Linked DNA regions of Homo sapiens. The protein of the gene in region 1 interacts with the protein of each later gene in a pairwise test. Each region holds a gene or a part of one and is shown in the gene's direction. Other genes may lie near its edges. The genes, in order: COL5A1 and GALNT7.

Evidence for each region.
Region 2: the proteins of COL5A1 (region 1) and GALNT7 interact in a two-hybrid assay, tested with the Homo sapiens proteins (one study listed by IntAct).

Annotation. Positions count from the first base shown.
Region 1 is NC_000009.12:134,819,668-134,823,578, forward strand, and holds part of COL5A1 (collagen alpha-1(V) chain isoform 1 preproprotein), read left to right. Parts: exon of another isoform or gene 1-448; coding exon 449-556; intron 557-2,429; coding exon 2,430-2,483; intron 2,484-3,330; coding exon 3,331-3,366; intron 3,367-3,748; coding exon 3,749-3,802; intron 3,803-3,911. UniProt on the Homo sapiens protein: Type V collagen is a member of group I collagen (fibrillar forming collagen). It is a minor connective tissue component of nearly ubiquitous distribution. Type V collagen binds to DNA, heparan sulfate, thrombospondin, heparin, and insulin.
Region 2 is NC_000004.12:173,171,615-173,175,525, forward strand, and holds part of GALNT7 (N-acetylgalactosaminyltransferase 7), read left to right. Parts: intron 1-3,911. UniProt on the Homo sapiens protein: Glycopeptide transferase involved in O-linked oligosaccharide biosynthesis, which catalyzes the transfer of an N-acetyl-D-galactosamine residue to an already glycosylated peptide.

The DNA of each region.
Region 1 (3,911 bases):
TGGATTCTTCTTTTTTTAGAAAAACAACCCATGATTGTAATATCTATAATACTCTGCATCTTTCTTTCCGTGTCAGTCCACAAACTTTGTTTTAGTTCCGTATAGGAGCAGGCGTTCGGATTTGCCATAGGAAATTGGAGAGCGTATACGAAGAGAAAGACAGAGATAAACATTACCACTCAGGAAAACCCCTTTATCACTTTGGTCTGTCTCAGTGTCTGTGGCTCCCTGTCTGTTTTTAGACGTGACTGTGGCCAGCGAAGGGCCACCTCGGACCTGCCGTTTCGTCACCTGGCCCCTCTGTTGAGCCTGTTCCCCTTCCAGGGGAGGCTGACCATGATGTAAAGCTTCCTGTGCCATGGCTGTGCTGCGTGCTAACTGGCCCACCGTGGCCGAGCATGAGGCGTGGCTCCCTCAAATGCCCCTTCCTGTCTTCATTTTCCCACAGGGTCATCCAGGCCTGATCGGGCTCATCGGTCCTCCGGGTGAACAGGGTGAGAAGGGCGACCGTGGTCTCCCTGGCCCCCAGGGCTCCTCCGGTCCTAAGGGAGAACAGGTGCGTGAGATGGCACTTCTTGCATGTGGGCTGTCGAGAGGCATTTTAGATCCCTGGGGCAGGCACCCAGGGGACAGGAGGCCCATCAGAGCCCGGAAGGACGTCCACACGTCGGTTGAGTCCGGTCATCCTGCTTGGCAGATGGGAACACTGACGGGCTGGGCTTGCCCAGGTGCACAGTGAGCTGGGCAGAGCCGTCTCCCAGCTCCATGCCCTGACTGGCAGGCGGGGCTTCCTCCTCATGACCGTGGTGTCCCCCAGAGCTGGAGGGACTCGGAAGTCAGGTCATTCTGCCTGGTTCCCAGCCCTGTGGGAGAGCCTGTCACCCACCGCTTGCCCAGGAGGTCACTGGTGACAACCAGCCGTGTTTGCCAGAGCTGCGGGCAGAGTGGCTGTTCTGGCTCCTGCTTCCACCTTGTCCCCAGCTGCCCCCAAACTGTAGCTCATTGGAGTTTGCAGCCTCTGCAAACCATAGCCAAGGAAACGCCATGCAGAGAGCTTCACTCTGTCCCACAACTCTGAGTGACTTGGAAGTGGCCTGGGGAGGGTGACGTGTGCCATGGAGGCAGGAGAGGGGATGAGGTGACCTGTAGTGCCTCTGTCCTTCCCCCATGAGGGCCACGGGTCCTTATTCCTGTGTGGGAATCTTTCCGTCCCGAGCAAGGTGTGACGGACACACACACGCACAGTATGCTGTGCCCACCCACGCCCATGCCTCATAGGATGCGGGGGACAGGGCAGGAGCAGGCAGAGCCCCTGGAGGCTGGGAGTAAGGTGGCACCCTCACTATGGGCCCGGGGAAGGTTGCAGGACATGGCTGAAGGGTGGAGCTCATTGCAAACCCTACCTCACTGGCCAGTGTCCTCCATGCCATTGACTGTTTTCCTCTGCCGGTATCCCCAGGCCACAGCAGGGTCGTCGGAGGAGTGCCGCCCAGGGTGTGGTGGCCCGGCAACCACGAGAATTAGAGAGGCATCCAGGGTCCCCACGGCCAGCGGGGAAAGCACCCCTGTGTCCACCCTGTTTGCTCACCTGCCCTCACCCCAAACCATGGTCTTGGCGGCATTGCTGATGAAGGTGTCGGGTTGGTGTGCAGGCTTGGGTAGTTGTGGGGTCCTTACAATGAGCCACAGCCCAAGTTCCTGCAGGGACAAGGTGAAGGGAGGGAAGCGCTCCCTCCCCAGTGAAATACGGCCATCAGCCCTCCGCTACCCTCGCCCCCAGCTTCTGCCCGGAGAGAGCTCTGAGTGGAATCCAGGGCTGTAGGGAGAGAGGCTGCAGGTGGCTCCAGCTGCCCGTGGCAAAGCTGGTCAAAGCTGTTCTGTGCCAGCAGCTCAGTCTGGGAGGGAGTCAGTGGGGAGAAGGGGTCTGAGCGGAGGTTCCACGCTCCAAGGATGCAGAAAGCACATTTACAGGCAGGACAGGACAGTCAGCATGGATGGGACTCCCTGCCCAACCCCTCCGGGCTTAGTTCTAGAGGGGAGACTAACACCATGAGCAGGAAACAGCAAGAGGGGCCCAAGCCAGGGCCACAATGTCAGGGCAGTGGTTTCTGTATTTCCAAATGAACGTGAAAAGAGGTGCTCAGCCTGAAGTCCTCGGTGGCCTGGGGGATGAGAGTGAGTTCCTGGCAGCCCAGCCGGGGGAGCAGTGCCGAGGGCTGGCAGCCTTGGGGTGGATGCTCAGGTCGATGGCTCCCCTGACATGCACAGCCCAGGATCAGAAAGCAGCCACAGGAGGCTGCTGAGGGGCCAAAGGGCATACCGTGGGGAAGGGACAGGGGAGCCGAGGGGTGTGGCTGGGTAGCAGGGTTGCAGCCCCGCAGCTCCTCCTCGTCTGAAGGTGATAACCTGCATTTTCTGGTCCTTTTCAGGGTATCACTGGTCCTTCTGGCCCGATTGGGCCTCCTGGGCCCCCTGGCCTGCCGGTGTGTATCTGGGAGGGGCTTGGTCATTCCTGGGAGGGCAGGGAGGGTGGGGATAAGCCTTGGGGCCTCAGTGTGGAGCTAGAGAATTGTGGAAAAGTCACACGAGAAGCTGGAATTGGGGCCTCCAGGGTGGATTTGCCCATTAACTCAACATTGGGGTTCCAGGAGACAGAAGAAAGGAAGTGGCGTTGCCCGGCCATGGTTTTTGGTGGGGAAGACAGGGACAGGAAACGGTGGCCATTTCAGGGAACGAGGCCACTTGTCTGTAGGCATCTGGGGAGGGTGCGGAAGGTAGTAGTTGGCTCTCCAGCCCTCCCAATTCCCAGGAGCCCGGCCAGCCTGGCCCAGACAAGAGCAGTTAGCTGCCCTCCTCTGGCACCGCTGCCTGGGTCTCACATTGCTGGGAGACCCAGCATTCCCAGGGCATCCCCACAGCCGCTGGGCTGCAGGTACACATGGCCCCCGGGGGCCCCTGGCACGCTGAGGGCTGGCCCCTGCTGTGTGCTATCAGGGCTGGGGGGTGCATTCCATCAGCCCCTTCTGAGCCAGGACATGCTCTTTTCCGCTGCGCCCCCCCCGCGGCTGTCTGAGCTGGGGTTTCCTAGCCAGGGTGGGTGGTAGGCTGGCCGGGGGCAGGTAGGACCACCCTGTGTCTCCACGAGGGGTGAGCACCAGCCAGGCCCCGACCCTCCTCCCACTCTAGCCGGGCAAATACAAGCATAGACTCTTGAGGGGGATGCGGGTGGGAGAGGGGCGAGGGGCGAGACCAGGCTGGGCAGGACATGGAGCACGGTGGGGCTGGAGCTGAGACCCGGCTTGCTGACGTTCTGCCCTCCTCTCTCTGCAGGGTCCGCCTGGTCCAAAAGGTGCTAAGGGCTCCTCGGTAAGTAACATGCTGCCCAGCCAGGCCAATGCCTGGAAGGTAGGGGAGGGCGACGGGTCCCCTGGCACGGGAACAAACTACCCAGACAACCGTCCTAGCTCAGGCCCTGCTGCTCACGATCCTCCCATCTTTCTACACTGACCCATGGCGGACTGAGGCAGGTGGGCTGCTCGCCGCCTGCCCTAGGAAGGGCTCCATCCCTCTCTGTTCTCATCTCAAGGATCCAGGAGGGTACAGGGGTCTCTGCCATTCTCTTCTCTGCTGTGGCTGATAGGGCCACCTCCCCCACATAGGTCTCCAGGGACCATTCTAGAGCTGAAGGTGGATTCAAAGTCCCCTCATACCTCTGTGACCAAGGGTTGATTCTTTTCTTTCTCCCCAGGGTCCAACTGGCCCGAAGGGTGAGGCAGGCCACCCAGGACCCCCAGGCCCCCCGGTAAGTAGCCCTTGAAGCCCAGAAAGCGGGACGGGGGCTCTGGCTAGCTCCGAGGGAATTGAGAAAGCAACTGTGTGTGTGTGACCCCTCCTGAGACTCATGAAGCCCA
Region 2 (3,911 bases), on another chromosome or scaffold:
GAAACATGTTTCTTATTTCCTTCCCATCTCTGGGCCTCTTGCCCTTTCTCTGAAGTGAATGATGTGAAAAATGACCTTACATTTCCGATCATATTCTGTTGTGTGATTTTAAATATTGATTTATTTGAACATTTTTGAGTGCCAATTATATACCAGGCATGGTACTAGTTGTTAAGGAAATACTCCTTGTCCTTAATCTCATGGATCTTGTAAAAACCACACAGCAATCAAACCTCGATAAATATATAAATAAAAATTGTGCTACTGCTTTCATAGTGAAAACCATAGGGGGCAAGAAAATGGAGGAATTTGGTCATAAAAGCCTTACTTGAAGAAATGACTATTAGCAGTAGCAAATCCACACAGGTCTGAAGCAACTCGATTCTTACCTCCTGTGGGAAAGAATTTATTGGAGGGGCATAAGGCAGAGTGAGAGACCGAGGCAAATTTTTGAGCAGGAGTGAGAGTATTAAAAAGCTTTAGAGCAGGAACGGAAGGAAGTACACTTTGAAGAAGGCCATGTGGGCTACTTGAGAAATCCAAGTACCTCGTCTGACCCTGGACTTGGGGTTTTATACATTGGCATGATTCCAGGGTTTGCGTTTCTTCTCCCGTGATTCTTCCCTTGGGGTGGGCTGTCTGCATGCGCAGTGGCCTGCCAGCAGCGGGGAGGGGCTGCCTGCAGTGTGTTTACTGAAGTTTTACTCATGCTCACTTGAGGCATTTTTCCCTTACAATTTGAGCCTTCCTAGAGGAAGGGCATATACTAGTTAAAAGCTGCCATTTTGCCTATTAGTGCACATGCTGGAGCCCACTTGCCCAACTCCTGAGATCTTAGTGGGAACCTGCTGATAACCAGCTTTAGGTGTTTTCTATCTAATGGGAGACTGCCTTTCCATGGTGTTGGCGCGACCAATTATTATTTCAGAGAGACAGTTTAACAACGGCCTGACCATCACCTGATGGCCGCCTGACATTCCTGGTGGTGGGGGGCCTTTCCTGCCCTGCTCATGTCTGCCTAGCTGCCTACTCTGACTTTTGAGGCGAAATCTGAACATTTCAAGAAAAGTAGTTAATCTGGAAGTGGGTGGCAGCATTCTTGAGAAGGAGCATTTGGGCAAAGGTCCTGAGGCAGGAGGTAGCATGAGTGAAATAGTGAGAAACTAGGAGATAAATATTGTTGGAACGTGGAGAATGACAAGTAGAATGATGCCACACAGGAAAGCATGGGTCTCGTAGTCCATGCTAAGGAGGAGATCTTAAGTGCGGTGAGAAGCCGTTGAAAGATTTTAAGTAGGGAAGAGTGGATTTGTGTTTTGAAAAGATCACTCTGGCTGCCTACAGAAAGTATGTATTTGTCTATAGAACAGGTAGCAGGAGTCCTGGTGGGGGTCATCATTATTCAGGTGGGACATAATCCTTGCTTAGATTGGCAGGGCGGTGGTAGAGATAGAAAAAAATAAATTGATTCAAGAGCTCCTAAAGATGCAAAGGCATCAGGATTTGGCTATTGGATATGGTAGTGAAGGTGTCAGGAGGCCTAGGATGATAGATTATTTGTTTCATTATGGAAAGTTCTCAAAGCAAAATGTATACCTTCTTGTATTGTATTTTATGATTATGGGAAGCTTTTTTTTTTTTAGTCTTTGCCCTCTGGATATTTTAAGGTCAGCATTTATTAAGATTATCTGCTTGGACTTGCAAAGCACAGAAAGTTCCTTTAATTAAATAAATTATGTCCCAGACTAACACCATTTATCCCAGGTTTTAGCCCTGAGTGACTGTCTACAGTTGACCCATAAGCCTCTGAAAATAAAGGTTTTTAAAGGAAATGTTGACAGATCCATTAAAACAGCAGTCCCCCACCTTTTTAGCACCAGGGACTGGTTTTGTCAAAGACAATTATTCCACAGACTGGGGGAGTTGGGTTGGGTGGGGGATGGTTTGGGGATGAAACTGTTCCGCCTCAGATCATTAGGTATTAGATTCTCATAAGGAGTGTGCAACCCGGATCCCTTGCATGCAGTTCACAATAGGGTTTATGCTCCATGACCCAGGGTTGGGGACCCCTGCATTAAAACATTCAGTACTGGTGAGAAGCTGTGTGTAAACTAATGACTCTCTGGATATGCAAATGCAACTTTAGTCAAGTCATTAATGCCACTTAGGTTCAGGGTGTATATAATAGGACTAATTCAGGAACTAGTAGGCCAAGAGGTTTTATGTGATAGGCAAGCTAACAGGTTTGAAAGGAATATAGCTTAAATGAGGATTAGTGGCTGAACTGATTACCCTGGCAGTCAAGTTCCACCTTACCAAAGCCATTTTATCTCAGTGATGATCAGTTGTAACCTGAAAAATTCTGCCCTTGAACATGAGATTGTACTTCAAATGGAAGCTCTGTTTATACTATTAGGGATGGAGCTATCACTTAGTGAAAGTGTAGTGTCTTAAGTGGTCACTGTTCTCTCAGTTTCCCAGGCTATACACCTTAGGATTGGTTTTTGTTTCCTTTGCTGTTTTCAGTGTCCCATCCCCCTTCTCCCCCCACACATAATAATGATTAAAAATATCACATCACCAAGTCTGAGAAGTCTGGGGTTTATAGACTTCCTGAAATTAATGCAGAACTTTTGCATACATCTACATTTTTTTCTAGGTTGATAATCAGAAGCTTTCATGTTTCCTAAAGTGTCCTCTAAACCAAACAAGGCTTCCAGCCACTGACCATGTGCCCTTTGAAGGCAGGGTTCATGTTTCCTGTTTGTTGAGTATTTCCTCCATCTTTCCTGGTGCTAATTTTATGGAAGGCACATATTAAATATTTTTCAAAGAAACTAAGGTACATCCATTTATGTCTCCCACATAGGTCTGAACATTTCGGAAATGTTTGGCGAATTCCTAAGAATTGTTGTATTTATCACTTCTGTGGAAAAGTTTTCCATCCAGTGGTCTATGTGAGGTCAGGCATCAGCCCTGTTACCACCTGCTTGCCCCTCCCCCATCCCCATCCTCCCCTCCCTAAGACCTCATGAAGAATACTGATAACACCTGAAGTGGGAGTTCCTGCTCTCACAATCTAGTTGGGGGTGGGGAGAGCTATTGCTTAATCCAGTAGCAATGTAAAGAAATAATACAAGAACTGTCACAAGGATATGTTTCATCAGTAGTCAAACCAGTAGGTGGAGAAGGCTTAAAATGGCCTTTGGGGAATGCACAGTTACTAGTAAAGAGAGAATGAAAACTTTTGAACAGCAGTCTATTTTGTGACTTAGGCTGGTTGCATGGGATGGGAGATAACGTGTGAGATACGATTTGGGTTCCTGTATAAACTGTTAGACAATAGTAAATTGGAGAAAGAGGAAGAGAGAAAATAATTCACGAATGAAAAGCAAAATTCTGAGCTTGAGCCATCTGTAAACAGAATATGTGGAAATTCTAACTTGAGTTATTAAAAAAGTTGGTCAGCAAGATTTGAGTAGCTATTGAATGAAGGAAAATGACTGTGATTATTCAGCTCCTAACTAGATAATTGTCTTTGTTCATATTTTGAATTTCGATTCTCATTCCTGAAGAATGAATGTACAATCTGAAAAGTAACTAAATTAAAGATTTCAGTAATAACAGCAACAATAATAGTTTACATATATTGAATCCTTACTTTGGGCCTAATACATATTCTACATGTATTTGGTTGTTTATTTGTAACAACCACCCTCTATTGCAAGTCCGATGGAATCCCAACTTTATAGATGAGACTGTTGTGGTATAGAGAGGTGAACTCTTTGTCCAAGTTTATTCACTTAATTAATTGTAGAGCCAGGATTCAATCTCAGGTGTTCTAACTTCAGAGCTGTGCTCTCTGATCTTGCACTACAGTTTTTAACAACACAGACAAGTACACATGGGCT